Linked DNA regions of Homo sapiens. The protein of the gene in region 2 binds, or shares a complex with, the protein of the main gene of each other region. Each region holds a gene or a part of one and is shown on either strand. Other genes may lie near its edges. A codon is read from its position in the direction of its gene.

Region 1 (16,795 bases), about 29 Mb from region 2:
ATCCTTGTGTGTCAGGACAGAAGTGCATGTGGCAGGTTAACCAGCAGAACTGGGACTGCAGGGCCTGCCTGATGCCACACCGTCACACGAGTGTGGGCACCCTGGGACACCTGCCCTGCCCTCTGGTGTCTCACTGAGGTCTGCAAAGCACAGAGAAAGCCCGGACTGTATCTACACTGTGGTGACCAGCCACAGTAAGAGTTTGCTGTTGCTGTTTAACAATTTGTTAACACCAGTAACAATTTGCTGTTGCTGTTTAAAACTTTTGGAATTTGAAGAAATTATCTTTAAAAAATAGGAGTTATGAAATTATAGTTAACAGGGTATCAATATTTTAAACTTTACCTATCTCTTGGCCAAAATGAACCCAGTTACAGCTGTGACACCTGTGGCTGTCAAGCAGGTGGCCTTTTGGGGACAGAAGCTTGCGAGCCTGGGCCTTGTCTTGTTACCTTTACCTGCATCTCATCGTCAGTCAGGCTCTGATGTGGTTGTCTGGTGATGGGGAGAGTGATGTGAAGAGTGCTGGGGACTATCAAGGGGATTCTGCCACAGCTTTTCTGCAGGGCATCACTGTGGCGTTTGCAAAGCAGGACGTGCGCACGCAGAGACCCATACAGGAGCCTGAGTCCCACTGACATGACCACGTCCTTCAGTGTAACTGCACCTGCCTCCAGCAGCAGCCAGCGGAGGGGAGGCAGGGGTCGGCTAATGGGCATGTGGACGGAGTAGCTCTTCCAGTGGCTGAGACAGTGGGGAATTTGCTCTCCTCACTTGTAAGTAAGTGGAAAATTTCCAAGGATGTCCCTGGCCCATCTCTGGGAACACTGTGTTTAATTATAAAGAAATACCTAAAAAAAAAAAAAAATTCTCATCTCCCCTGGCATATCACCTTGGGTGACAGGAATGTACATCTGTTCACTGATTTAAACAGAAGAAAGTCTGTGTGACACATAGGCAGTGGATGAGCTGCTCGAGAGAATTGGAAAGAGCAGGGATGTGGGGAGACATTACTACACAGCACTTCCCAGCTTTGACTGACATTGACACCTTCACTATCTCCAAAGAAAAAGTGCAGTGAAACTGTGCAAAATGCAGTCTCAACCCGCCATTACCCACTGGCCTCCCTCCCCCAGTGCCATTCCTCTCATTAGCAGCAGTTTCTTCTACTGGGAAAGATGGAGTGGGGGATGCATGGGCAGGACCCGCCATGCCTCCTGCCGGTGTTGGGGTCATGCACACAACCCTTCTGCTGCTACCTAAATATTCATAAGCACTGCCTCTGCATAGAGAGCACATCTATATAGGAAAGAGCACTACCCTACCCTCATCCATTTTACATGAGAGAAACTAGAGTAACCACTATAAAAATACTCCCTTTTCATGAATGTGCTCCGGACAGCTATCAATGGACAGGAAGCCTGTCTTTCTTGTGCTGGTGTAGCCAGCATCTGGCAGTGCCCACATATACAAGACACATAGTAAGTATAAAATTGGTGAAATTACAGTTGCATCCTGCTGTCTAAAGTGACTGGATTCTGTGGCATTTGTGTCAGGAAAATAAAACCTTACCCTTCAAAACATCCGCTGATGGTTGGTGTTAAATGTTGCATATCAGCCCTCAAGGGGCCAAGGTGCAAAGTTTAGTTCATAAACGTGGTATGCATTTACATTTTTACTATTAGAGGCTGTGAAAAAAAAAAACCATTGATAGAAACATTTAAAGAGGATAGCTGTTCTTTATGAGCTTATGACTACAACTCAAACATGTACCAGATGTGATAATCTGAATTTGCAGGGACAATGTTGGTCATCTACTCACTTGTGTTAGTGAATGAATGAATGCCTCGAAGTAAACGGACAATTTTAGTCTGTTCCTGACTTACGCACTCAGTCACATGCTGACACTGGCTGACTTGCTGTGTTTCAGAGCAGGACCCACTTAGTGCCCGTGTGCCATGCAGTGAGCAGTTAACAACAGCTGCCGGGGCCCTGTAGACAAGCCAGTAGGGTGGCTTTCAGCACTGTGAGATGAGTGTTGTGCCATCTCTACTTAGAATATGGCTACTTCAGCCAAAGAATGAGTGTTCCTAAACTCCCATGAATTTTTCATGTCCCAAGCGGGATTCCCATCTTTGGTATGTGCTCCAGTGTGTGTCTGTCCAAGCTTACCTTATCCTCCATGCACACTGGACTGACAGCCAGCCGGGTAAGAAGCCTGGCGCATCTTTTATAGTCTACGGTGAAAATATATCAGACTCTTGTCAGTTACTTAAAAAACAAATAAATCGCATTTTTTTGCAAGTATATCAGCTACTAAAGCCATTTATTTCTTCAAATATCTGAATTCCCTGGAAGCAATACGGAGTCTAATCTGCAGGCATGCATTCTAAGTTGTTGACTTAATAATTTATGGTGCTTCAAGGGCTTGAGCTTCAATGGCAGAAGTCGGATGATGTAAGTGGGGCAGCGGAGGGAAGAGGGACAGACACGAAGGCTGCATGGCTGAGCTGGCTGCCCATTGCTTCTCTCAGAAATAACTTCATTTCGCTTCCTACGTGACAATCCTTCCGTACCCTTGTGCTACTTTCAGGTCATGTGCAGGCTGAATCCCAACTTGAGTTGACCATGGGACAAAGCCTTCTGCCTGTAAATTCTAAAGAAAGTGGGTCAAAAGTCAGGCAGCAGAGCAGAGGCCTGGAGTGGATGGCGAGCGGAAGCAATGTGCCCGTTTCTAAGCGCTGGCTGATACTCCTTGGTATCGTACACAGTCTCCCATTCCACTATTCTGACCGTGCTGCCTATAGAAATTAAGAAGGTGTAATGGGCATGGCCATAAGGGAAAATATGTCCTCTGGGTGAAGATCTATGGAAAGCTGCAATAGTTTGTAAATTATTACAGTTTATTTCTCAATAACAAAATCCTACTTAAAAGTGGAAGAATTTATACCCAACTGAAAATCTGAATTGAATGGGTAGATTGACAATGACAAATGTGTACGATATGTTAGTTAAGGAGCCAGCTCTACTTCCAAAAATACGCCTCCTAAATATGGCATATATTGTTAGGGATTTTTCAAACAGAAAATGTTTTTCAAAGGGCCAAACAGTGGCACTGGGTCATCTGACCGCCTGGCTTTCTCTTTCATAAGCAGCACCATGCTTTTTAGAATGTAGTTTTCCTAAACAGATTCCACATCATGGAGGCAGTGGAATGTGTGATTTCAATGGCTGATCTAATCAATGAAGACTTCCACTTGGGCCATGTCCAGGGTCCCAGCTGACCACATCCTGCTCAACCCAGGTGTTTTCAGCAATGTCTTGCAAACCTTCATGTGCAGACCAATCATCTGGGGATCTTATTAAAATGCAGATTTTGTTCAACAAGTCTAGATGGGACTTAGTTCTGCATTCCCAACAAGCTCCCCATGGGACCACACTTTGAGAAGGCACTAAAGTTCCTTCAGGTCTGATATTCCAGGATCCCAAGGATTTTCTTTTATACAGCCTGACGCAGTAAAAAAGTGGTCCAACTTCAGCTCTGCAGTTCTTTATGGGCTAAGAAGAGGCAGAAAGCAACAAAGTGGCCACCCATCTCAAGGCACAGATCTCTCAGCCTTCTCCCTCTCCATGGCCCAGGGTGAGCTGTGATCAGGAGCTTAGTATCACAAAGCCGAGCTGCTGTGAGCAAAAGGAGGTATCGAATGCAGGCACAGCATGATGCCTTGGAAAAAGGCCTGCAGAGTCAACCATGAGATCTGTGCTTTAGCTTTGCTGATATCTGACAGCACAAAAGCAATTCCTCATCCATAAATGAAAAGATGAGACTGAATGACTCAGAGGTCACTTCCAAATTTGGAATCTATGATCCTATTACTGTAAGGAAATAGGTAATATAAAATATATGTACATCAAAACAATACAAACGACAAGATTTTCTGGCCCCAAGAGCCACATTAATGATTCCCAAACAGGTGATTACATTCCAAAAGAAGAAAACAGGAGAGTACTAGTGTGCCAGGTGCACATGGAAGGGTGGGGCCCAGCACCAAGAATATAAAAACTCTTCAGGAAGTGTGTGCTGCTGGCCTTGGCGTGAGGATGATGTTGCTAAAGGTATGGTCAGAGGGGCCGAGGCTGCGTTCCATGCATCTTTGTGCGGTGATGTGAATGCTAAAAGTGCATGTGCCTTAGCCTTGTCCAAAACGCGCTGGTGACGCTACTTCAGTGGGCCAAGGTTCATTGGCATGCACCCGGCACACAGAAGCAGCTCTATAAATGATGGTTATTATTATTTGAAGTAATTTTGCTGCCTAAACAAAGAAAAGCACTTATACTTCGTGTACATTGGCTTTTCGTTTGTTTGTTTTTGGAGAGGGAAGGCAGGACAGCAAGTCCGGAACGCTGCCTGGTCCAGCTGGAGAGCCCTGATGACAGCAGTTAGCAGGATGCCTAGTGTTTCTGCATGACTTTTCTCCTGTGAGCCTTAAATAAAATCAAAGTTGGAGTCCGAATTAAAAAAAATGGGTTAGGGCCCTATCACTGTAGCTAATAAGGCTTCAGTGAAGAGAACAAGGAGCTACTTTTGGAGAAATAAAATGTTTTGTTATGAATAAATAGCCAAAAGCAGGTTAGGAAGACTGAAAAGAAACAGGAGAGAAAGCTACTGCTGAGAGCTATGTTGATAAGGGCAGCTCTGCATTTCTGAAGGAGTGATGGAGCCAGCCAGAGAAACAGTTTTGAAATCACAATGAAATTCCTGGGTGATGAGGTTATAATTACCAATGGGAAGAAAAAGTCTCTGGTAAGAGCAGTGGAGATGATCCAGGTCAATCTTATTCTTGGAGTCAGTTTAGCAACTCATTCTTAACATCTGACTGCCATAGTAGAGTACACACAAACATGGGCATTGGAGGAGAATTAACAGGAGGAGAATCGGAGTTCAGCCCATCCCAAGAGCCTATTATTCCAATGACTGTAAATAATTTCCAGTTTGGCGTTAGCTGATGCAGAAGTTAGTTATCTTCTGCAATGGTCTGGCGATCTTGGCCCCTAACTCCATAGTGAGGAAGGAATAGGCAAATTTGAGCTAAGAAGGCAGGGGCCTATATGAGGAAATGGAAAGAGGGGAACCGCTGCCTGCACTGCTCTTGCATTTTATAAAAATCCAATGCTGTTACTTACATGCAGGAATGGTGCAGTCTCTGGTGTTGTGATAAAGTCTATGGAAGTGTTTGCTGCACTTTGGACTAAAATAAAGAGGGCCTGGAACACGGAAGAAGAAACAGATCATGAAGACTCACAGGTGAAAAGGAGCTCTGGGAGACGTGAGGAACGAGGAGAAAACTTACCTGTAAGGTGTTTTAGAAACTTGTCCTTCATCCTCAGATCTCGAGGAACAATTTCTGTTTCAGGGAAAAGAAAGTATTATATTACCTGAAGGACGCATTTTTTAAAAATGTGATCTTAAGTGAATGTTGAAGAAAATTGGAGCTCCATATTAGCCAAGTTGCTTTGCACAAAATAAAAAAGACTGGGGCCCTGGATTGCAACACACGACAGTGAAGAAGACTCAATATCAGGGACATTTATTTTCCTTGAAATAACAGTAACTGCTCCTGAAGCTCCAGGATTATGTCGGCTGTCTACCCCGTGGGATGCAGACAGAGACCACGAAGTTACAGAGGTAAGAAAACTGTTTTTTTTTTCTTTTAAACATTTAACTTCCAGTGAATAAGTCACTTTTAGGCACTTTAGTTTTAAGGACCTTGGGAATCAAATCCCACAACATTTCAAAGTTTTTAGAGAAAACCTGACCCTTCAAACAAAAAAATGGGTTACAGAACATTACTTTATCTAGATACATATTTAGAGTAAGGATTAAAAGACCACGTTTCAGTGAGGTGTAAATTAGTGGGAATATGCATGAACCTGGTTTGTAGGGTAAGAATCCCAGGGAAAGACTCTGCCAAGCAAACTTCTTCCACCAGGGTTCTCCGCACACAGTGGGTGGGGAGAACCCTGCAAGGGCGTTCTTCTTGAGTTCAGCTTTGTTTTTGCGTATTTACAGCCCTCTCCATCTTCACTCCCCCGTTCAGGGCTCCTGGCTGAGCCCCGACTGTGTGTGAAGTCACGCCCTCTGAAGAGGAGCATTCGCATCCACAGCTGACCCCCTAGTGAGTCTTCATTCACTCCTAACTTGACGCAGCCGGGATAAAACTGACCTTATCATGTTTGACCTGATTGTGTCACAAAAGCATTAGACGCTTTCATGCTTTCCTGGGAAATTCCCCGTGGGCCACCACTCTGGGCAGGGCCATGAAGGAGCCTGGATGCTTCCTTTTCAGTTGGGAAAGCTTTGCTGGAAATGCTTCCATTTCCAAAGTGACGGTTGACAGTTTAGTGTGGAAACCACCGACCCGCGCCGCAGCTCACGCGCGCCAGAAGGAGACCAGGCGCTTCTCCGCCAGGCCTCATGCGCGGACCTATTGCTGCTATTTTCTTTTTCTTAAAAAAAAAAAAAAAAAAAAAAGGAATCCTGCTGTTCAGTGGTCAAAATTGATGTCTCTTTTTGAAACGTGTTTCTCAAAGACAATTCTATTTCCCAGCAGCCCCGGCCCTCGGGCGCGCTCGGCCCCACTCACCCACTCGCTGCTCCGGCGAAGGCCCCAGCCCCGCCGCCTCCGCGCGGCCCAGGGCGCAGTCCCGCCCGAGGAGCTGCAGGCCCTTGTGCTCCGCCGAGTGGTGCTTCCGCAGCTCCTGGACGAGTTCCACCACCAGCCGCAGCAGCGCCTGTCCGTCCGCCGGCTCCCGGGGCTCCGCGCCCCCCCGGCCGCGCCCCGCCGCCCCCAGCACCAGCAGCAGCCCCAGGAGGAGGGGGTGCCCGGGTCCGCGCATCGTGCGCTCGGGGCCGCGGGGCTGGGAGACTCCGACACGCGCCGAGAGCTGGGCTCGCTGCGAGAGAAGGGGCGCGGGGGGCCGGAGAGAAAGTCAGCGGGGGAGGGGGACGGAGCGCGGGGCGGGGGAGGGGAGGGGAGGCGGGAGGAGCCGCTGGCGCTGGACCCGGCCCCTCACCTCCGCGGACCCCGAGGAACAAGCCGGCAGGTGAGGGAGCCGCGGTCTCCTCGACGATCACGCCCGAGGTCCCGCCCACGGGGAGCGACCGCCGCTGGTGCGGAAAGGAGCCCCCGGAACCCGCCCGCCCGCCAGCCCGGCCCCTCCTAACTTTCGCCCGAAAGGCCGCGTCCGCCGAGCGCGCTGCGCCTGGCGCGGGCGCAACTTTCTTTCCCCTTTGGAAGCCGCGGGTGCCAGGCAGCTCCCCGGCCGCGGGCGGACCTCGGAGGGGCCGCGCTCCCGCGCCTACCGCTCTCCAAGAAGGCGGCGCCGCGCGCCGGGCCCGGCGGCCGCGCTCAAGTTTCCAGCGTCGCCTTTGCGCGGTGGTCGCCGGCGAGCGCCGAGTCCCCGAAGCCCACGGAGGAGGCCGGGTGCGGACCCTCGCGCTGGCCCCGGCCGCGCCACGTGCTGGAAGCCCCTCCACCTCCCGGCCATGGCGCCCTCCCGCACCTGCCCGGCGCCACCCGGGAGCCACCTGCGCGTCGTGGCCGGGCCGGTTACCTGGAGCCGCCGGAGTCGTCGCCGTCTGTGCGCACGTCTGTCCCCGCGCCCCGAGCTGCGCCACTACTCCATGCCCGGCGGGCGGAGCGCACGGGACGCGGGGACTCGGCCGCTCCGAGCGCTGGACCCACGGCCGACCTGGGGTGCGCCGGCTCCGAGTCCCGCCTCAGACCTCGGGGAGCTTCTTATCCCCGCGCCCGCCGACGTCAGGCGGGTCCCCAAGGGCTCCGAGCGGGGCTTTAATTAGAAGCCGCTGAAGTGTTAGTACCCCCATGCGGATCTTCGTCAGTCCCCCCGCCTCACCTCGCTCTCGCCTCCCCCCGTCTCCCGCTCCCCCTCAACTCCGCCCCCGCCCCCGCCCGGTCCCCCCACCCGCATCTCCACCGCGTCTCCCCCTCGCCCGCGCCCCGTCTCCCGCGCCCCTTCCCTCCCCACCTTCCCCATCTCCCGTCTCCTCCTCTCCTGCCCCACCTTCCCCCACTCCCCGTCTCCTCCTCTTCCCCCTGTTCTCCTCCCCCCGCCCCTCCCCCAGTCTGTTTCCCTCCGTTCCTGTCACTTGTGACAGGATGAGAAGAAACGCCTTTACCAGGAACTCGGTTCTGTTTTTGTCTAAATGTAGATCTTGGGCTATTAAAAAGGGAGCTGCCTGATTGCTTCGACATTTAATAAGTCAATTAGAGTCCATCCGTTTTGGAGGGATCCGCTCTCCGGACCTCGAGGGGTCTGCCCCGCCCGAGCCCAGTCCCCAGGTTCGGGTCCCCAAGCCCTGGTCCCCGAGGCGGGGCGGCCAGGAGGCAGGAGATGGGCGGGTGAGGACTCTCCACGGCCCCCGAGGTGCGCACAGCTGACCACCCGAGGAGGGGCAGGACCTGCACCCCCTCCCCAGACCCCCTGCGAGAGGACGAGCGAAGGTCCCTCCCCGGCAAGGACCGCGCCATCTGCGCGCTCCTCTGCGCTGGACCCTCGGCCCGCGGGTCCCTCGCGCCCCGGCAGGGAACGCCCGCAGGAGGGCACTTGCCTCCCGGACTCGTCTTTAAGAAAGTTTGGCTCTTTGGCCGAAGCCCGGCACATCTGTGAAAGTTCAGCAATTTGCCTCTTTTATTTTATTCTTGTAAAATGTATTATCAATCAGTTGCGCACTTTCCCATTCGATTGGTGCTTTCTGGGCAAGAGCTGGACGTCTTCCAAGTCCGCGATCTGTTTGGGAAAGGTGTTCTGAGTGCAATCAGAGAGGCGGAGTGGGCGAGAATTAAAGGCCTGCACCATGATCGGGGCAGTCGCAGGACCGCGGCGGGAAGGTGCTGGCCCAGGCGCACGTGAGCGCGGGCGGTGCGGGCGGAAGGCTCCGCGCCCCGATCCCCCAGCTCCCGGAGAGGCCCCGTCTGCGCCCGTCCCCGCGTCCTTTCTCTCTTCCTGCACGGGGTCTGTCTCCTCAGGAGGAGAAAGTGTCCGGCAGAGCTGGGCGGGGAGGCAGCGTGGAGAGAGAAGATATGAAATGTGCCGGTTCCGGACCCCGCCCCACACCCTTGGGATCTGCGTTCTCTCCGCTCCCTTGAAAAACAGATGGTTTGATTTCACAGCGAGGCTTTTCTTTTTCTTTTTGCAAGCTACATGACTGAAATGTGAACATTTCTGCTAAAATACACTCAGGAAAAAGTAAAATTTTATGTCAAACAGACCTTAGGCACATAAAAGGAGGCATTTTTCGTTTCTCTCTTTCCCCTTCCCATGTCCAAGAAGACACTTGAGTTCCACGGGCAAGAGCGACGCCTGGCGATGGAACCGGCCCTCCCCGGCCCTGCTCCCGGTCCTGCTTGCCGGGCCCACCTCGCAGCTGGTGGACACCGCAGTTCCCAGAAAAATAGAACCATGAGAAGATTTTACTGTTGTAAAATAGCTTGGTGTAAGACAGTTTTTCAAAAAAATCTTTGTATGGTAAAAAGAAGAAAACACATTTCACGTATTATTTTAAATTTACATAGACCTATTAGAATAGTATTTTATAAAATCAAAAGCTAAATTTCTTCTATAAAATGCTAGTAGGATCTATTTCCCCCAACACACACAAATTCTACCTACCGAGGAAGCCTTGCTAGTAATTAATATTATGTCTTTTCTTTTGCAGTTTTTAATGGGACAAATGGATTCCTTGAATGAGCCCTTTCTACCATCCAAGTGTGGGCCAAGACTTCCGCCCAGGTTAGTAGAGGTTTGGTGGATAATCAACAGCAACAGAGCTGATGCTTGGTTGGTCTTTGGATTAATGAGATCTTACAATTAAGAGTCAGACAATTTATGTGTTCATTTATTTTTACAAAGTTCTCTGCCAAAATTATCTAGGTGCTGCTCATTTTATATTATAGAAACAATTTTTACAGACTAACAAACTTAGAGTGTACCACCGATTTGTTAATCTTTATTGAATTTTTAAGTTAATGGTATTGTCAAGACGAACCCCTTGGAGTTCTCCAGTCATCAGAAATAGGTGTGCAGTCATCCCTTGGTATAGCGTGGGACTGGTTCCAGCAGATACCGAAATCCAGGCACATTCACGTCTCACAGTGGGGCCTGTGGAACACGCAAATACGGAAAGTTGCCCTCCCTCTGTGTGCGTTTCGCATCCTCCAGCTGCTGTGTTTTCGACCCACGTTTGAAAAAAAATATGTAAGTGGACCCCTTCAAACCCGTGCTTTTCAAGCAGGAAGCCAAAAAGAAAAGAGATACAATTAGCAACAAACTATATTCTAGAATTACTGGAAAAATTTTTTTCTAGATTTGATTTAGTTTGGTTATCTTTTTGAGAAAACTGTGTTGGATCATAGGAAGAAAACCGAGCAGAGGAAAAAAACCTGTATTTAATCTACCCTAACAGTACTATATATAGGTCCTGAGATGGGTGAGTTGATTTTTTCAATTCATAAACAGGTTAAAGTTCTGATGTTTTGACTGCAATCATTTTTTTTCTTCATCCAGAGGGTACGTATTTAATTTTAGATGAATATTAGCTGCCCTCAAAGACTTCTAAAATACCTGTGTTAACCACATGCTTTAAAATGAATTGTTATATTTTTCAATCATTATGGCAATCATTTAACAATCTAACGAAGTTTGTATTGTAGAAAAAAATCACCTTTCATAAAGGATAACATCATGTACTATAAACAAATATTGCTTACTGTTTAATATTTACCAATTCTGCTTTTTTAAGCTATCAAAATGCTATTAGTGTGCTAGGCACGTACTAGACAGTGTTTAAAGCATTTAGGAAGACAAGCTTTCTAACAGGATTAATTTTCCTAGTATAAATGTAATAAATATAGACTCTTACAAGTGATAATGTATGCATGATATCTGCAGCTTATTCTAGATCAATGAAGTACAGCATTCTATGTAACACTTCTCCCCTTCTAGGGAGGAAGAAGATGATTCCAAAAACATGGTCATCCACCCCTTCCCATTCTTCAACACTGCTTTTGCATCTGCAGATGCACACGGCTATGCATGTTCAGGAGAGAAATTAGGTGAAAGTTGTATTTAAAGGGTTGGGATAAGATAGCATGGCTGATTTACTTTTTTAAAAAATTTATTGTTCCAGGCCAAGATAAAGAGGACTTTTCATGGGGAAAGGCTTAAAGGAAGTATGGACTTTACGTTGTTCCTTCAAACTGGATTTTAGTTATAAATTCTGAAACCACTGTGATGCTTACTTGCCATTTGGAGGCACCAATCTGACATCTTTTGATGGAAGTAGTAAGAATAAATTTGAAAGAACACACCAATCATCAACATATCAGAAAAATATTATCCATGACAATATTTCAACAAAATATAGTCATAGATGCTGAGTAACAACACCAATATATCTGCATTCCATCTGTTTTCTGCAGGAAATCAGATATCCTGATCAGAAGTGACACACACAATGATCTAGGTTCATCACAGAGACATCCAAAGTGTCATAAAGGCACCACCTACCAAAGTGGGTTGTTGTTTGTTTCTAGGATAAGCTAAGCACAGTGATGGGGATGCCTCCTGGATAGAGGGAACTGCATATGCAAACTTCCAAGGAGGAGGCCCCAGAACCTCTTGGATCTGCTGGGAAGACTGGGCTGTAGGAAGAGGGTGGGAGGAACAGATGGAGAGTCACCTCACCTGAACTCCACTTTCTTTCAAGAATGCAGCATAGCGGACTGCAAAGGACGTGGGCTTCAAAGCCACAGAAATGGGCTCAGGTTCTGATTCCTGCTCACATCTGTGTGAACCTGGGCAAGACAACTTCTTTGAGCCCAGTTTTTTCATGTCGGAAATGACAGGAGTACGTACAACCTCAGAGGTTTTATAAACATTAAATAAGATAAAGTATGTTAACTTTTTAGTATAGTTTAAATTTCTTTTAACTGACCAATTATTGCTATTACTGCCTTTCAGAGTGTCTGCTGTCATAATGGCCTCTTTTTTCCTGTATTTTATCCCTTACAATATGGCATGAAAGAGAGCATTATCCAATCCTAGAGAATGTCTGGGGCATCAGAATTTGGTGACTTGTTCACAGCTGCATAGAAAATCTATAGTTAGAAGTGGACTGAAATATCCTGAATTAGTAAGTTTCCATGTGACCAGCACTCAGAACAGTGGGTGAGGGCTCAGTCCAGTGGAGTAGGATTCAGACCTGTGGGTGAGGGCCCCTGCTGCTGCCCCAGGCCCAGTGCCTGTGCTGTTAGGATGGTATATAAGTGTGGTTGGCTAGGATATACTAGGGCTATGAATTCATAAGAACAGTCTATATTTTGCTCACCTGACCCTTCCTTAAAACCGTGGGGACATTTCAAGACTGCTGTCTCTGATATTTTTGCCACTATTATAATGCAGTCCATTAGGCAAAGAGTGCTTGAGACACTGTCTTAGTCCATGTGTGCTCCTAGAACAATATATCATACACAGGTAGTTTATAAACAACAGGAACATATTCCTCACAGTTCTGGAGGCTGGCAGTCCAATATCAAGGCAGGCTGGGTGTTTGATGAAGCTCCCCTTCCTCGTAGATGGCGCTTTCTCTCTTGAGTCCTCACAGGGGCCCACCTTCCTCACAGATGGCGCTTTCTCACTGAGTCCTCACGTGGGGCCCGCCTTCCTCATAGATGGCGCTTTCTCACTGAGTCCTCACACAAGGCCCCCCTTCCTCATAGATGGCGCTTTCTCACTGAGTCCTCACACGAGGCCCGCCTTCCTCATAGATGGCGCTTTCTCACTGAGTCCTCACACGAGGCCCACCTTCCTCACAGATGGCGCTTTCTCACTGAGTCCTCACACGAGGCCCGCCTTCCTCATAGATGGCGCTTTCTCACTGAGTCCTCACGTGAGGCCCGCCTTCCTCATAGATGGCGCTTTCTCACTGAGTCCTCACACGAGGCCCACCTTCCTCACAGATGGCGCTTTCTCACTGAGTCCTCACGTGGGGCCCGCCTTCCTCATAGATGGCGCTTTCTCACTGAGTCCTCACACAAGGCCCGCCTTCCTCATAGATGGCGCTTTCTCACTGAGTCCTCACACGAGGCCCACCTTCCTCACAGATGGCACTTTCTCACTGAGTCCTCACGTGGGGCCCGCCTTCCTCATAGATGGCGCTTTCTCACTGAGTCCTCACGTGAGGCCCGCCTTCCTCATAGATGGCGCTTTCTCACTGAGTCCTCACACGAGGCCCACCTTCCTCACAGATGGCGCTTTCTCACTGAGTCCTCACGTGGGGCCCGCCTTCCTCATAGATGGCGCTTTCTCACTGAGTCCTCACACAAGGCCCGCCTTCCTCATAGATGGCGCTTTCTCACTGAGTCCTCACACGAGGCCCGCCTTCCTCATAGATGGCACTTTCTCACTGAGTCCTCACGTGGTGGAGGGTGCAAGGGGACTCTCTGGGGTCCCTTTTCTAAGGACAATAATCACATTCATGAGGCTCCATCCTCAGGACCCCATCACCTCCCAAAGGCCCCACCTCCTGACACCATCACTCTTGGGATCAGGTTTCGGCACAAGCACTTTGGAGAGACACAGACGCTGAGACCACAGCAGACAGGCAGCACCAGTGTAAGGCAGACCAGTTACTGGCCCCGGGAGAAACGGGAGGCAGGGGTGCCCAACCGTTTGGCTTCCCTGGGCCACACTGGAAGAAGAAAGAAGAAAAATTATCTTGAGCCACATGTAAAATACACTAACACTAACAATAGCTGATAAGCTATAAAAAAAATCACCAAAGAAATATCATGTTTTAAGAAAGTTTGCAAATTCCTGTTGGGCACATTCAAAGCTGTCCTGGGCTGCATGTGACCCATGGGCCATGGGTTGGACATGCTTGGAAATGGACGTCAAACAGAAACAGTCTGCACCTCCAGGAAGGAAGGGAGAATTTGTGCTGAGAACTTTTGATTTGCTCACACATCCCATAGCCATTGCTTGAGTCCTCGGGTGCTCAGGGACAGAGGGGAGAAATTCTGTCCACAAGAAACCTGCATTGTTTGGTGTAGTGTGTCCCGTGTGTCGTGTGCTCCTGGAGTCTGGACGGAGTGTAGGGTGTGGGGCCACTCCCTTGAGGCTGGTTTATGGATGAAAGGGGCAGGGAATGCACATGTAAAGAAGCCAAGGTGCCGGGTCACAGTGCGCTTGGAATGTGTGAGGGTCCCTTCTGCAACAGAGTGTAGGAGAGAGAAGAGGACAAGAGGCTGTTCTCAATGCCACTCTCAGTACTCTGAACTTCATCCTGCAGGCAGTGGTAAATGATTGACAAGCCTTGAGCAGGGACCAACATCATCAGATCTGTGTTTTATGGAGGTAGCTATGGATGATGGACCAAAAGGGTTTGGGGCCGTAGGCAGACAGACCAGTCCTGCCTCCTTCTGCCCACCCTCCCCCATGGGCAGACAGGCGAGCAGGGGGCTTTCTGACCCTCCCTCCTTCCGTCAGATGCTGTCACTAAGTAGAGAGATGCGAAGTGTCCCCCGTGTCCAGCACTGCACCAGGTGTTGCAGGTGTGACAGTCCCTCCTGCATGGTTCACTTGCTGCAGAAGGTAAACACCAGCAAACAGATAACTATATGAAATAGTAGGAAGTTATAAAAAGAGCATGGAAGAAAGAGGGAAGAAGGAAGAGAGACAAATGCTGAGACAGAGATGAGATGGTGAGGGCGAAGGGGACCTACGTCTGATAAGGTGGTTGTAGAATCATCTCTGAGGACAAGGTATCAAGGTATTTGAACTGAAACCTCAGCATGGATGCAGCCACATTTATAGTGATGCAGGCGAAAAAAGGAGGAGGCTCAGAACTGGGGCATGGAGATGAGGATGGAGAGTAGAGAAAGTCTTGGCTTCCTAAGAAAATCATCTTTTTTAGAAATCACCTGTTTCATCCTGACATTGGCATTCCCAGTATGAACATTTCTGTAAGAGCATTTAAAAGTCCCATTGAAAACATAGCCGTGATCTTGGGACCATGTGTAGGCTCCAAAATTTAATTCTTTCCTCCATTCAGCAAAAACTGACCATGTGCCGGCCACATCCTGAGCATAGTTCTAGGAGCAGGCACACATACTGCGGTGAGCAAAGTAAGTTCCTATTACTTGGCTTATTGAAGATGTAACTTTAGCCTACGTGGACAAAGAAATAGACAATTTCTAAAAACAGATACAATACAAAATGAAGCTTTAAATATGAGCACAACACCCTATTCTGCTTTGACTGGGAGCTGAGAATGACAGTTGTTAAGCCAGACTTTTTTTATTGCTACACACGTGAACGGGAGGGCATCTCAGAGGTGATGCAGTGCTGACAACCAGGTGTGATACCCTCACATGTACAAGCACTGTGCATTTCAGAGGTGACCTTGTGCTGACAACCAGGTGTGCTGCCCTCACCATGTAAAAGCACTGGGCATCTCGGGGTGACCTTGTGTTTACAACCAGAGGTACTCTCCTCACTGTGCAGTTAGGCACTGGGCGTCTTAGAGGTGACTCTGTCCTGATAACCAGGTGTACTCTCCTCACTGTGCACAGGCTAGGGCTAGACATGGCAGGGACCCAGGTGTGTGCAAGGTGCAGCGTTTGTGCCATGGGGAGGACCTGCAGGTCCATCCACCTCCCTATTCCAGTCCTCAGAAATGCACTAGGGCACAGTGGCAGTGGGGCAAAAAGCTCTTTGTGTGCTGTGATGTGAACCTCAGGGTGACTCCAAACCTTATCGTGCTCCACGTTCTCTTAGGCTGCTGTCAATAAATGTTTGAACAATTTCTCGTAGATGTCTTTGAATATTTCTATGTCTGTACCTCCTCTTTTGGCAATGAGTTCCATAAGTTTACTCTTCATTACATAAATTACTTTCTTTAATTTGTCCTCAGTATAAATCAGATGTGTTTAAACATGACCCTGAGGTTTTCTCTTTGTCTTTATGTGCTGGTAGCTGACACCTTCAAAGTGAAGGAGGAGACTTCTGTTTTGTCTCAAAATGAATGCAGGTACTCTTTTGTTTTTAATTCTGATAAAACATATGTAACATAAAACTCACAATTTTAACCATTTTAAGAGTACAGCCCTGTGGCATTAGGTAAATTCACAATTTTGTACAACCATCATCACCACTGTTCAATTCCAGAACTTTTCATCATCCTGACCAGAATCTCTGGACCCGTTAAACATTAGCTCATCATTTCTCTCTTCCCCAAAACTCTGGCAAAAGCCATTCTACTTTTTGTTTCCATGGATTTTTTAAATTGACATGTAATAATTGTATTTATGGGGTACAGTGGGATATATTGGTGCATGTGTACCATGTATAATAATCAAATCACTCTAATAAGCATATCCATCATCTCAGTTATCGTTTCTTTGTGTTGACAGCATTTAAAATCCTCTCTTCTGCTGCTTGAAAATATATAGTCAATTACTCACCCTATGAGAAGACCAGAACTTCTTCCTTTGTAATTGTAGGTTTGTTCATGTTAACCAAGCTCCCTCTGCCAGCACCCCACTCCCATAACCACTGTTGTATTCAGCACGTCTGTGAGCTCTTCTTTAGCTTCACATATAAGTGAGACCATGCGGTGTTTTTCTTTTTGTGTCTGTCTTATTTCACTTAGCACGATGTCCTTCAGGTTCATCCATGTTGTTGCACATGACAGGATTTTCTTCTTTTTAAGGCT
Region 2 (14,555 bases):
GAGAATAATGCAAAAAGATTTAAATTGTTTCTTTTCTCAACTATTAGATGCAGTAAAATATAGGAAATTTGCCCACAGTCGTCACAATCTTATCTTGGTGGATTGTTTGAATTGGCTATATTTTTGGATTCCCTGTTTCTAGGGATCCATTATAAAGCTATATGGTTCACAACAGATCTCCAAAAATTGCCATCCAATGGCAGTGGATAGCTCTATAAAACCTGAAGAGAGGGGTTCTATCCAATTCTATGGTGATTGTGAGAGAAGACTCCTGTTCCTCATGAATTGCCCATCATAATGGCACTTGGATGCGCTTGTTGAGGAGCGTCAGAATCCACAGGCATCTCCTGCTCTCAAACACCTGGCCTGCTTTAGGCTTTGCCACCTCACTTTGGGAATGGGCACCGATGTGGTTTGGCTGTGTCCCCACCCAAATCTCATCTTGAATTGTAGCTTCTATCATCCCCATGTGTCACGGGAGGGACCTGGTGGGAGGTAACTGAATCATGGGGGTAGGTTTTCCCATGGTGTTCTCATGATAGTGAGTAAGTCTCATGAGATCTGATAGTTTTATAAAGGGCAGTTCCCCTGCACACACACTCTTGCTTGCCGCCATGTAAGACATGCCTTTGCTCCTCCTTTGCCTTCCACCATGATTGTGAGGCCTCCCCAGCCATGTGGAACTGTGAGTTCATTAAACCTCTCTTTCTTTATAAATTACTCAGTCTCAGGTATGTCTTCATCAGCAGTGTGAGAACAGACTAATACAGGCACTAAGAGGTGCAAATTGTCAACTGACAAAAAGAAAGTGCATCAGATATACCATCAAATATTAGGTGTGATAAAAGATAAGTTTTATGGTTTTACTTTGCTAATAAGGTTCCCATTATAGCAAATGTAATGAAAGAGAAATAAGTGATGTGGCACTGAAAGCATGAAAGTCATTAAATGGACATGACTCATAGTTCTGCCGGCTTTGCTGCTTTCTGGAAATCATCCCTGATTAATCTCGTTTTGCTATGGTAAGGATTTGATGATTTGTTAAAGAGATCTTTGAATAGAAAGATCTTTGAATAAACAGGACTGATACTAAACTCTCTGGTCTACTTCTACATAAAGATTACATATGATTTGTCTCACTGGGATAAGAGTTAAGGTCAAGGACACATGCACACACCAGTGATGCTCCACTGATAATGACTGGGTGTTGGAATTTACCTTACACAGGTGAAGTCCTACAGAATCATGGACTTGACAGTTAGAAGGGGCCTTTGAGACCAAAGCCTTCTATATATATCTCTATGTATATAGAAGATGGAGTCTTGCACTGTCACCCAGGCTGGAGTGCAGTGGCGTGATCTCCACTTACTGCAACCTCCGCCTCCTGGGTTCAAGCGATTCTCCTGCCTCACCCTCCCGAGTAGCTGGGATTACAGGCACCTGCCACCATGCCTGGCTAATTTTTTGTATTTTTAGTACAGATGGGGTTTCACTATGTTGGCCAGGCTGGTCTTGAACTCCTGACCTCGTTTTTTAAATAAAATGAGAGTTTCAGTAACTTGCTTGAGTCAGGGAGGTAGTAATTGCAGTCTAGTAGTGGTAGGTCTCTTAACTCCTGCCTGGTCTGCTTGCTGTTTTCTCAAGTAATTGATGAATGCTAAACCATCCGAGATGATATAATCATCTGAAGTTTTATCAATTTGATATTCATCTATGTTAGCAAATACCTCTTCTAATATGTAAATATTGTAGGGAGAAATACTACCCTAGCTGCTAAGGTTTCAATGTGAGTTTGTTTAATAAGACTGTCTTTCACCTAACACCAGCTGAAATGAACATTGAGTGATGGAGGAAAAATAACTGTGGGTTAGTTCTCACAAGGAGGCAATAAGTCTTAGGAAATTGATGGGATGGGGAGAGAGCCCGAGGATGTCAAGAAGAGGGATATAAGAAATGGACATGTGAAGGCACTAAAGACTAATTTTGGTATTTGTGCTTTTTCTGAGGTTAGACTTGTAGTGCCATCTTTCCATGTCAAGGGTAACACACCTGTTTTACACTTACTGCATGCTGAAGAGAGGAAGGTGATTCCTGTAGTTTTGTGGTCATAGTTCATGTAACTTCCCGTCCCCCGCACCCCCCGTATAGTAGTTTGTTCTTACCAAGTTTTTCAAATGTTTTACAGTTGTTAGGCTACGGCTAAAAAATGTTTTGCACCTGAGTAGTGCATCAAAAATTAAACACCCCCATTCAGGACACCAAATGAAAGTAGAATCTTAATAGAAGCCTTACTATTTGCTCTCAGTAATGATCTTGTATTTTACAGCAGCATGTTTAGGATTACGGGAATGCTGGTTTTGCTTTTTCATGCAACAACACAGGAGCCATCTGCTGCAATGAAATTAGCAAAGTCAAATTGTGTGTTCTTTAGGGACTCATTTTAAAAACCATTAAAGACAGATTGACAACACACTTCATACAATTTTATGAATCTTGTCATGCGTAGCCTGTTATTTAGAGTAACCTGAATTCAAATGCATCTCCTTTTAGGTCTGTAAAACTCATACGGATTTTAATCCTGCTATTACTACTGAAAACCTATTAAAATGGCTTGATCATTAGAATTTCTTAGTGGTGTGCTATGGGAATTTGGATATAAAGGCCCATGTTTTACAGAATAAACTTTACTGTAGTTACATAATACCTTACAGCTATAGGGTTTACTAAGTACTATGTGGAGATGCCAAATTTTTTTTTTAAAGAATTACTGAAATTGTGGTAGAAACTTTATGTTCTTCTTTTGAGCTGAAAAGGAGTTGGGTTCTGGCAGGGTTCCTGCTACTGTCATTAGAGTTAGGAGGAGGAATAAGTGCTGGTGTTCAGTTGCACAGTCGGGTGACTATGGTTAACAATAGTGTATATTTCAAAATAGCTAGAATAGAGGATTTTGAATGTTCTTACCACAAAGAAATGATAACTATAGGAGGTGATGGATATGCTAAATGCCCTGATTTCATTTATATAATATATGCATGTATTGAAGTATCACATGATACCCCATAAATACACATGATTATTATATGTCAAAACAACAAAACCAAATGACAGATGAAGAAAACATGGCACAAATGGGAAGAGCCAAGAGGGCTGGATGTGAGTGGGGACAAGAACCACTGCTGAGCACGAGGGCAGGGAGGCATAGACATACCTGCCCCCACACCCAGCCCCACCTCACCTGGGGGCTGCCAAGGTGTAAGAGGGGGCGCCTGTGCTTTCACATAGTGCATGATCTCCCTGAGGAGCTGTGAGGAAGGGAGGTGATTGTCCTCCTTTTATGTCTGCAGACATTGAGGTACCAATGGGTCAGATAACTCAAGGGGAGTCAGAACTCAGACTCTAACTGGTGGAAAGAGAATCCAGCCTTTTAACTACTGAGTAGAGCATACTCTTTTTAAAAAGTTTATTCCTGCTAGTCTGAATTGCTATAATCCTGAGGTACAACATATTAACAAACTGGTCATTGCTCACAAATTGCCAGCTTCCCAGTGGAACAGTTGTGAACTTTCGATGGGCCTTATAGACATAGGATATAAATAATTATGCTAGATTACGGTTTAATTAGCATAGCTTCTGCAAACTTTAATTGTGCCCGTTCATATTCTGGGTGGAACTTTCTATCATGGTTAATAACTTTATTAAAATCCATAGCGTCTGTATGAATTGTAGCCATGTGCCTGGAGCAATATTCGAGTGGACCATAGTCCAGATTAATACCATGCTGATACCCATGGGTTACACCAAGTTAAATGAAACATCTTCAGGTCATCGCATCTCAGTGTGGAGTTGTTTATTTACTTATCCATGTATACAAGCTTTTAAGACTTGACTATTATTTACATGAAAGTTGATACCAATAAGGACGATTAGAGAGATCAACAAATCAATCTCAGTGGTAGAAAGGCACAACCTGAAAATGTAATGGATTTGTCGTTCTTAAAAGTGGAAAGAAGTAATATTTTCCCCATGAATAACAATAAAGAGATGGCTATTTAACCAGATAGCTTACTCCCAGCTTAATTGGTTACTGATGTTACAAATCTAAAATGGAGGTGTTTTTCTCAGTTATTGACAACTCCTCTGTCAGTATCCTTTAGGAAGAGTGTTTCTCAAAGTGATATTCTCGAGCCCCTTCAGATGGTCTGTGAGTTAAATAATGTGTATATGATTAGGCTACTTTTGTGCCTGGCATGAACCAGAATTTTACCGATACATTTATTTAGAGATGAGTTCATTGATGTTTCATCTTCATGCATCTCTGATGAAAATATTTTTGGCAGTTAAGCAGATAAGGAAGGTAGCCTCTAGCCATCAGTGCTTTTACAGTTGTACACTCTAACTCCAGGGAAAGGCAACTGCCTTCAGAGAAAGGAAGAGTTGTCTGGTGTTGGCTTTTAACATAATGGCTTTCCCACGCTGAAAGTGATGCTTTTGACGCAGGTGAAACTGAGAAGGTCAGAAAAAGGTATGTATATATATACTTTTTATAATATACACACACATAGTCCTTTTGTTTGGTAATGTTTAGTAACTAGCAAGTAATAAGAGAATTGCTTTCCTCTTGAATGCTTTGGTGTAGCTACCAACAGGAAAGAAAGTGGGCGTGAGGCTAGAGGAGAAGCAGAAAGAGGATGAAATGAGGACTTACTGATAAAGCATTCTAAGCATTACACACATAAGTATGTGTGTAAAATTAAACAGATTCCCAATGCGTTTTCATGGAAGTAAAATTCATCTGTGAAAACCAAGTTCAGAACTCCCACTCTAACATGTCAATGTCAACCTCAACTCTCCAAGGGTTCCACAATTCCTTTCCTCATCGCCTCCTAGGGAAAAAATTCTTTGTTTTAATCTGCCTTTGACAGCTATACAAATTATGCGATGTGTATTTCAGCACATTTATGTTCCCAGTGTACTTGGATCACATGAGGAAGGGAGAGAAAACGCAGGTTAACGGTGAAAGGAAAGAGACTGGATCAGTGCCTCTCCTTAGGACCACCAGCGGCCTGTTCCTCCCGGGGCCCTGTCCATCTCTACAGGTACAAACTTGAGTTTGGTAGTTCATTCCATGACTGAAACGAATAGAAGGTTTTGGCCTAAAATGTATTGACGCTTATGCCCACAAATGGATATGTTTCCATGCTTCCATGTATCACTGCTGCTTAAAATTTTTGCTTTTAAATGATCAAAATTTAATTAGTGGAAATTTTTTAAATAAGTAGTTTAAATCTTGAGTTTTAAATCCAGTAGGAAACCTCACACTCAGTTTTTCACTTCTAGTAGGAGGATTTTCTTAAGGCATGAGGTATATTTAATAGGATGTTTGAATCTCTGGATCTGTATTGGTGCTTTATCCTACTCAAAGCACTTGGAATGTATGCATTTCATTGAGATGAGTATATACACACTTCTGCTATACTACTGGAACTACTCACGACATTTTTTACAATTGGTGATGAATCAGCACAATTAAAAGCATCTAACCGTCACCTAAAGTGACATTTCAGTTGTCTATGATTTTTTCTTTTTCAAGTAAAGAATGTCTTTCCCCATGCTTAGTCATTACAAATAACTCCTTTATTTCCGTTCCCTCTCCCCTCAAATGGCTCATGTCCACATCAACAAGGCAAGGAAACATCTATGACCCCAACTATGAAACATAGAAGCAGCTAATTCTGACTACATTGAAGCAGAGCACACACAATTTGAAAGAAGCATAAGGAAGTATACAACAAACATGCATAAAAACCTTATGCAACCACATCTGGGCCTTGTATTTATCACTCATTTTTATGATATTTTCTTCTTTCGAAAGAATAGGATGAACCCATGCTCAAAACCTTTCTAAAGCATTTTCAAAATACAGCTTTTTTGGTGGTACTTCAAAATAGGTTGGCACAAAACAAAACGTGACATTTGGTCTCTGGTTTGTGAAGGAGCCATTGCCTCTCTCTCCTCCACGGTCTTAGGGATCCCAAGGAAGAGAAGTGAGTGTGCGACCGAGCTCAGGGCCCAGGCTGGTTCATGCTATTCTTGCTTTTCAGAATGGTATCCTCGTAATGACCAGCTCCAGGGGCAGTAGCGGCTTCTAAGGGCAAGCCCTGTTGCTGGTAGCCGTAATTGACATTCCCACAAGGGAAGTGACGTAGCCTGAACAGAGGTACCTCCTTCATATTGGCAGTCAGCGAAGAGGGCTCTAGGAGCAGTGAGGCCCCCGGAAGTCTCCCAGTTGCAACGTTAGGTGGGACAGTACAGCTTCCCTCCAGCCCCAGGTTACCCCTGTCGTGTGGCTCCTTCTTTGCTATAGGATTATTCTTTTTGGTGGGTTTCTCTGTAAACCAGGAGCCGTACGTTGGGTTCCACAAGCTGGTGGGCTTGTTTCTGGATCCGTGGACCTTGTGCAACTCCGAAGGAGGGTTGGACTGAGAGAATGCCATATTCACGTGTCCCCCTTCCACGGCCGGCCCTCTAGGGACTCGAACAGAGATCTCTGCAGCTGTGGGTTTCTTTGCAGCCTTGCCAGAGGAGGTGGTAGGCAGAGGTGGTGGGGCAGCTGGGCTGCGCTCCTCCTCCCGTTTTGCCTGTTGAGAGACCAGGAGAGGAGGAACCCCCTCAGGGTCCTTGGGCCTCACAGGCACTTTCTCTTCCTCTTCCACAAGTGGACCATATTCTATCGGCAAAGCGGTGTTGATTACATCCGGGTCCTGCCGTAGGGGAAATTATTAAAACTTTGAATCAGAGACAAAAAATGTTGGATCTAGAAGATACCTTAGAGATGATGTTATCTAAACATATTCTACAGATGAGGAAACCAGGATTTATTGAGAATATAGTAACTTACAGGCACTGGGGCATACAAAATGAATGGGAAGTCATCCTTATCCTCAAAGACCTTAGAGGATAAGCGCTATAATGGAAGTGTGTATGGGTGCCTGGGACAGAGTGGAGCAGGAAAAGCTTTGCAGAGGAGGAGACCTTTGGCCAGTTTTTAAAGATTAGTGGATTTAAAAAAAAAATTAAGATTATTATTTGTATTATTCCAGTCTAGTTCCACTAAAATCGTTCCAACTGGAAAAAATAAAAATAAAAGCCTATGTGTTTGACTTCAAGAGTGATGGTGGGGGGCTGGGGGGAGGAGGAGAGGAGACACATGCCATGTTGGCCTACAGGGTTTATTTTTTGATCTCTTCCCAGCTGCTTTCCATTTCCATTTGGGTACTTTACACTTGATTGTAAGTTTTCCTGTGCCACATCATCACATGTGCAGGTACCACAGTGCATGTTTTTGTGTTTGTTTTTTAGAGACAGTCTTGCTCAGTCGCCCAGGCTGGGGTGCCATGGCTCAATCTTGGCTCACTGCAACCTCTGCCTAGTGGGTTCAAGCCATTCTCGTGCCTCAGCCTCCTGAGTAGCTGGGATTACAGGCATGCACCCCACCCCCCCACCCCCCCACCCCCGCTAATTTTTGTGTTTTTAGTAGAGACAAGGTTTCATTCAACATGTTGGCCAGGCTGGTGTCGAACTCCTGACCTCAGGTGAGGCACCTGCCTCGGCCTCCCAGAGTGCTGGGATTACAGGCATTCTTTAACTAGTCTGGATGTGAGGGACCCTTTGCACAACCCAGGAAATGCTGAAGTGCTGTGAGGAAAACCATTTACAAAAACAACTGTGTGCTAGATCATTTTCACAGTAATAGACTGTAACATAGAAGAACAGAAGCAGCTGCCAGAAGTTTAGGGAAAATTTGTGGAAGAAAAATTAAATTTGGAGAAATTAATTAATATTTTATGCAAATTGAGAAAATACCCTCATTACCTGAGTAACAGAAAAACACGAGTGTTCGAGTTTAAAAAATAACTACCTCTGACTCATTAAAACATTCTTTAGTTCCCTCTGTGTTTTAGTAATTTCTATAGTGAATCAATCATTTTAAATATGCTTGTGTAAAACTGCCTTTTAAGAGGGATATTATAGACTATTGAGAAAAATACTCCTAAGAAGGTATATATGTTTAAGTGGGTGTATTCCATTCAGATTACAACAAAATAACCTAATGTCATTAAACAGAGTTCTCTGAAAGAACCTTCAATAACGTGATATAGGAAGTCTATAGATAAAAATGCCAGTTCACTCACGTGAGCTGAAAGGAATAAGAGGATGGAGTAGTGAGGCTGGAAAATGACTACAGTTTGAAAAATGTGTCTGTCTTTAGTCACAATGAAGAGGAGGGGATTTAAAGAAATAGTAGGTAGGCCAGGTGTGGCAGCACTTTGGGAGGCCGAGGCGGGTGGATCACTTGAGGTCAGGAGTTCGAGATCAGCCTGCCAAAATGGTGAAACACCATCTCTACTAAAATTACAAAAAAAATTAGCTGGATATGGTGGCACATGCCTGTAATCCTGGTCACTCAGGAGGCTGAGGGAGGAGAATCGCTTGAACCCGGGAGGTGGAGGCTGCAGTGAGCCAAGATGGCGCCACTGTGCTCCAGCCCGGGCAGTAGAGCGAGACTGCTCCCAAAATTAAATTAAATAAATAGTGGTTTATTGACTCTTCTAAAATATTCTCAGAATTAGATATCCTGGCAGAACGAGAACCAAGAGAGAGGGAAAGAAAGTGAATACAGGGAAGAGGAGAGCATCGGACAGAACAAAGCCCTGAGCAGGCGATTGGTGATACTGGCAGCAAGGCTGGCCTTGAAGGGGAGGAGAGACGGGAAGGCAGGTGGTGAGAAATGGCGGCAGAGGCAGAGAAGTTTGTATCAGAGACAGGGAGGAAATGAGGGCATTCTCTTATGATGATCTCCACCCTCTTGGTGAGGGAGGAAGCATAGCTGTCGGCTGAAAATGAGGGAGAGAAGCAAAAATTTCGAGTCGTTATTGAAGGAATGGGAGAGGGATCTGTAGAGGAACCCACAGGATTGCTAGAAGAATGTTTGACTTGGACAGACTCTTCAGGCCTTAACTCCTCATCTATAAGGTAGGGATATTTTACATTCCCCACTAAGGATAAAACGAAATACGCAAAAAGTGATTTGTGCAGTATGAATGATAGCAAGTATTATTGATGATGTTAAAATTTCTCCAGATTACTTTGAAATTTCATTCCCTTAATCCTCCTGACATATATAGTTGGACATATAATCTATCAATTTTATATGCAATTAATTACTTCACATGTTGTTATTTCTCCAGCCAGGCTCTAAACTATTTGAGAGCAGATGTGTTCCATACGTCTGTGAAGCTTCAATTTTGGCTACTAAAACATTAGGTCCCCAGTAGGGACTTGATAAATTCTCGTGGACTGGATTGATTCCCCAGTTTTTACTGTGTGTCTGGCACTGTGCTGTGTGCTGGTGAAGTTACTAATATTTATTTTACAAAATGGGCAAATGGAGACACCAGTCATTTCATTTTAGAGAAAATTAATTTTCACTATTTTGATCATAAATCTTGTACTCTGACTGGCTTGACCTATTTCATATTTCGGTATTTGCCATCTTTAAGACTGTTTCATATAGAGTAAATGTTGACCAAAGGGAGAAAATGTTTTACCTGGGTGCAGTATTCAATCCTCTCCAAAATGATGGCAAAGTTGGGCCTGTCTTCAGGCTGATGTTGCCAGCACTGAGTCATTATCCGGTATCTAAAAGAAGAAGCACATTAATTAAAATAAGGAGAAGCACAATGATGAAAAATATATTTTCTTCCAGCCCCAGGGTTGCAACGAATACGTTGAGGGTGCGAACTCGTCTAGGCCCCGTGTACTTGGCCTATGCTGCCCCCTGCTGATTGGTCAAGGAAGAGTGCGCAGGTGTAAAGGTATCTAACACAGACATCCTGATGTTTATGTTAACCACGGCTGCTGTCACTCCATTCCTGAGTTAAAGCCACTTTGGGGACAGAATATTCCAATTATATTTCCCATCCACGTTGCTTGTGGGAAGGAAGTGAGGGGTGCCAGGCAGGGCAGGAGACATTGCAGGGAATGGAAATCTTTAAAGTAGACACAGACATACGGTGTAGGGCAGCAGGGACTGGGCCTGGGACACACATTCCCAGCAGGAGCTTGGGGAATGTAGGCCTGGTGAGTCCACAGCCTGTAGCCAGACAATGGATACTTTTTCTGGGATGGCATCCTTGCTTTTGAGGGCCTGGGAGACGCATCCATCTCACTGAAGTCGCAGTCACATTCGCATCTTGGGGCATATTAAAGGGAGGGCAGCCATCTGCCCCTTCATCTTAAAGAAGCATATGTGGCTCTGGATATTTTTTGAAAAGAAAAACTGCTTAGTAACTAGCAGAAGTGTTCCTAAAAGAGTCATACACAGGCCCAGGGCAGTTCTTGGGTGGGTCCATCCGGCCTCCACTGGTGACAAACTCCAGAACTTCCTGGTTGCTTTTGCTGGGGTATGGCATATATCCAAGAGAAAAGATTTCCCATAGCAGCACTCCAAAGGACCTGGGCATGGGACAGAGGACATGGAGATGGATATAGACACACCCACCCACATTCACACACACACACAGGCACACAGACATACAATTTCAACCTTTTTTTCCCCCATTATACCCTTTTCCATAACATAGAACTCTTAAAATGTAGAAAAATTTAAAAAATAAGAAAATACTACACATGATGCTCCCTTAAAAGACAACCCCTGTTGATTTTTAAGTCGTTTCTGTGCTGAGATTTTTTTTCACTTATTTGCAGTTATATTCAATATGCAATTTTGAACCTTGACTTTTCTGCACATTTCATTATATCATAAACATTTTCCATGCCAGTCCATTTCATAAATAACATTTGGAATGGCTAATGGCTGTAAAACATTCCATTGAGTAGTTGGTTTGCCTTATCATTTCCACATTGTTTTCAGTTTTCAAAATATTTAAAATACTATAATGAACATCTTTGTGCATTTTTTAAAAGGAAGATTTCCTTAAGATAAAGTCTCTGAATTACTAGATTAGGATGTCCAGCCAGCTGATTTCATAGTCTCTTACAGTTCTCTGAGCTTCAGTTTCATCTATCAGATGCCCACTCATCAACTTCACTGGCCTATTTTAATAGGCAACTCAAATTTAACATGCCCAAATGGAACTCTTTCTGTACACACATCATCTCCTTTATTCTTTTCCAACTCATCAGCACCTCTGGTTATACATTTGCTCAAGCCCAAAACCTAGGAGTCATCCTTGATTCCATTCTCCCACACCCCTCCACTTCCCATCCAACAGTCAGCAGTCCTATAACTTTCAAGATAGATCTTGAATCCAGATAGGATAATCTAGTAATTCAGGGTAATTACTGAATTAAAATGTAGGCTAATTCTAGTAAAATAACTAGATCAAAAGACTATGAATATTGACAAATTCTTGGTGCATATTATTTGGTTTCCAAATGTGTTACTCTGTTCATCTACCAGCACCATGTAAAAGCGTGGTAGACACACTCACCAGCATTGAGTATTCTTAATAATAATGACAACTTTTGCTGATTTTAAGGGAAAAAATGGTAGAATATTTTAAATTATGTTTATTGACTTGATAATTCACATGGTTGGATGTTTTCCCAAGTGTTTATTAATTCATTTCACTTTTTTTTCCTATGAATTGCCCATTTTTATCTGCTGGGACAAATTGGTATCTATCAATCAATTTTCTTTTTGATTTGTAGGCACTCTTTATATGTCAGAGATGTTAACCTTTTATAAAAAATTCAAATACTTTTATTAGTTGTTTTCTTTTTTTTTTTTTATGTAGTCTCACTCTGTTACTCAGGCTGGAGTGCAGTGGTGCCATCTTGGCTCACTGCAACCTCCACCTTCCAGGTTCAAGTGATTCGCCTGCCTCAGCCTCCCAAGTAGCTGGGATTACAGGCGCCCACCACAACACCTGGCTAATTTTTGTATTTTTAGTAGAGACAGGGTTTCGTCATGTTGGCCAGGCTGGTCTTGAACTCCTGATCTCAGGTGATCCACCCACCTCGGCCTCCCAAAGTGCTGGGATTACAGATGTGAAACACCGCACCTGGCCTTAGTTGCTTTCTAATGCTACTTTTTAGCATACCAAAGAAAGATTTTTATTTTTAGATAGTCAAACCTATTTTTTTAATGTCATGATTTCCTTTATTTTATAGTTATACAATCTTCCCTTCACCAAAGATTAGATAAATATTTGCTATCTTCTTCTAGTTGTGTTTGTTTTTGCTCTCTTCTTAAATCTAGTTGGAATTTAATTTGGTGTCTAGTGTGAGGTAAGGACCTAAATTGATTTGCTTTTCAAATAACTACTCTTCCAACACTATGCATAAGATAATTTCCTCCTTACCCATTGACTCACGATTAAAAACAGGTCTGTTTCTGGCTATATTTTCACTTCATCTATTTGTCTGCTTCTTGCATTGATACCATTCTATTTTACTTTCTGTGTATTTGTCTTAAATCTGAAAAGGCATTTTTCTCTATTTCTCTTTAAAAAATATTTGATTTCTCATTTGTTTTTTTAAAAGCTTTATGAGATGAATTCTTCGTGTTCTAAAAGAATCACCTTTGATATTTTGATTAAAACTTTAAACCACTACCTAATGATCAGCTTTTTGACAAAGACTATCTTTTAGTGTGATTGTAGTTTTCTGAGGTTAGCAAATATTACCACAAAAATTGTAGAGAACAATAGTTCCTTCATCTTCTAAGAAACATGGGGTGCTTTTATTGTCATCATCTGTGTGAAATTTCAAAGACTCTTGTGAGAAGGATTGGGCAAAGATATTTTCCCTATTTTTCAGGTGAGAAGGTTGAAGCACAGGTTATTATACAACTAATCCGAGACAGACTGGAATACATTATTAGATCTCTTGATTTTGCTACTTACAAATTGCCTGGCACATATATTATTCCTTTCTGTTTGGAGATCTCTTGATTTTGCTACTTACAAATTGCCTGGCACATATATTATTCCTTTCTGTTTGGTGATCTTACTTCCCTTCAAGGCAAAACTAACTAGGCAAAATCAAATGAACAAGAAACTGGCAGTAAGGCCTAAAGAATTATAGCTATATGTTTTCTGTTTTTCTAGATAGATATAGGTTATAGCATCCTTTGAGAGCACTAATAGAACTGCACATGAATATTTATTTTCTTAGTTTAGAGTTCAAGGGAGCAAGAAGTAGTATTGGTCATAGAACTTTGACAATTTTGAATAAGTAGGATTTTCATATTTGCAAACAATACCAGATACCTAGTTAAATTTGAGTTCCAGATAAGCAACACATAGTTTTTTTAGTATATGTATGCTCCAATATTTATACTAAAAAACTATTTGCTGTGCATCTGAAATTCAATTTCACTGACCATTTTGTATTTTATCTAGAAACCCTACAGATGAGGCAAATCTATATTTTGTATGCCAGATGGTTCTTTCATCACCTATAAGCCTGCCCTAAACAGGAGCGACAAAAGCCCAAAGCTTTGCACCAGAGCATTTAAAATCAAATATACATACGTATATATGTATATATATACGTATATATATACGTATATATGTATATATATACGTATATATATGTATATACATGTATACATATATATGTGTGTATATACATATATACGTATATATATGTGTGTGTATATAGATACGTATATATATGTGTATATATATATTTTTAAACTTCACTTTCTTTTGGTATTAAACTTGCTCTGCCTGGAATGATTGATAGAAATAATAGCAAACATTATTGCTGATTAAACTGTTAAACATTTGAATCGATGAAGATAATCTGATAAAAGATTTTAAAATATCAAGCTGTTCTGTATCAGCCTTTAAAAGCTACATTTTTCTCCTTAATCATAACCTGAAAGGAGGTTATGATTAAAGAAAAAAAAAAACATTGTGGAAGATGGTCTCCAGGTGTGATAGAGGTTATGCTCTTAGGAAAAATGGGAGCCAAAAATTAATATCTTTAAATGTCCATCCAGTGGATTCCAAGATCTCATACACCAAGATCTCATACAGTTCTCTGATCTTTAGTTTCATCTATCAGATGCCCACTCATTAGCTTCACTGGCCTATTTTAATAGGCAACTCAAATTTAACATGCCCAAACGGAACTCCTTCTGAACCCACACCATCTCCTCTTTCATTCTTTCCCAACTCAGCAGCACCTCTGGTTATGCATTTGTTCAAGCCCAAAACCCAGGAGTCATCCTTGACTCCGTTATCCCACACCCCTCCACTTCCCATCCAACAGTCAGCAGTCCTGTTAACTCTACATTCAAGATAGATCTTGAGGCCGGGCGCTGTGGCTCATGCCTGTAATCTCAGCATTTTGGGGTCTGAGGTGGGCGGATCACTTGAGGTCAGGAGTTCGAGACCAGCCTGGCCAACGTGGTGAAATCCCGTCTCTACTAAAAATACAAAAATTAGCTGGGTGTGGTAGCACGCGTCTGTAATCCCAGCTACTTGGGAGGCTGAAGTGAGAGGATTGTTTCAACCTAGGAG

What was found.
Region 1: the proteins of ALK (region 2) and ALKAL2 are in contact, whole or in part, in a cryo-EM structure (PDB 9G5I), measured with the Homo sapiens proteins. Residues at the interface, in NP_004295.2 of Homo sapiens: Leu684, Tyr739, His755, Ser758, Leu760, Phe856, His857, Glu859, Leu965, Tyr966, Thr967, Pro968, Leu970, Lys971, Val972, Met973, Glu974, Glu978, Asn980, Val992, Glu994, Cys995, His996, Met997, Phe1007, Asp1009; in NP_001002919.2 of Homo sapiens: Ser112 (codon at 5,239), Lys113 (codon at 5,236), His114 (codon at 5,233), His116 (codon at 5,227), Arg117 (codon at 5,224), Leu118 (codon at 5,221), His120 (codon at 5,215), Asn121 (codon at 5,212), Thr122 (codon at 5,209), Arg123 (codon at 5,206), Asp124 (codon at 5,203), Arg133, Arg136, Leu137, Arg140, Leu141.

The regions. Positions count from the first base shown.
Region 1 is NC_000002.12:280,939-297,733, forward strand, and holds the start of ALKAL2 (ALK and LTK ligand 2 precursor), read right to left. Parts: upstream 7,154-16,795; 5' UTR 7,075-7,153; exon of another isoform or gene 7,027-7,074; intron 6,955-7,026; 5' UTR 6,898-6,954; coding exon 6,645-6,897; intron 5,687-6,644; exon of another isoform or gene 5,406-5,686; coding exon 5,352-5,405; exon of another isoform or gene 5,266-5,351; coding exon 5,185-5,265; exon of another isoform or gene 4,991-5,184; intron 2,238-4,990; coding exon 2,173-2,237; intron 1-2,172. UniProt on the Homo sapiens protein: Cytokine that acts as a physiological ligand for receptor tyrosine kinases LTK and ALK, leading to their activation. Cytokine-binding is sufficient to activate LTK. In contrast, ALKAL2-driven activation of ALK is coupled with heparin-binding to ALK.
Region 2 is NC_000002.12:29,187,162-29,201,716, forward strand, and holds the end of ALK (ALK tyrosine kinase receptor isoform 1 precursor), read right to left. Parts: intron 10,516-14,555; coding exon 10,381-10,515; intron 9,700-10,380; coding exon 9,609-9,699; intron 6,762-9,608; coding exon 6,063-6,761; 3' UTR 5,613-6,062; downstream 1-5,612. UniProt on the Homo sapiens protein: Neuronal receptor tyrosine kinase that is essentially and transiently expressed in specific regions of the central and peripheral nervous systems and plays an important role in the genesis and differentiation of the nervous system.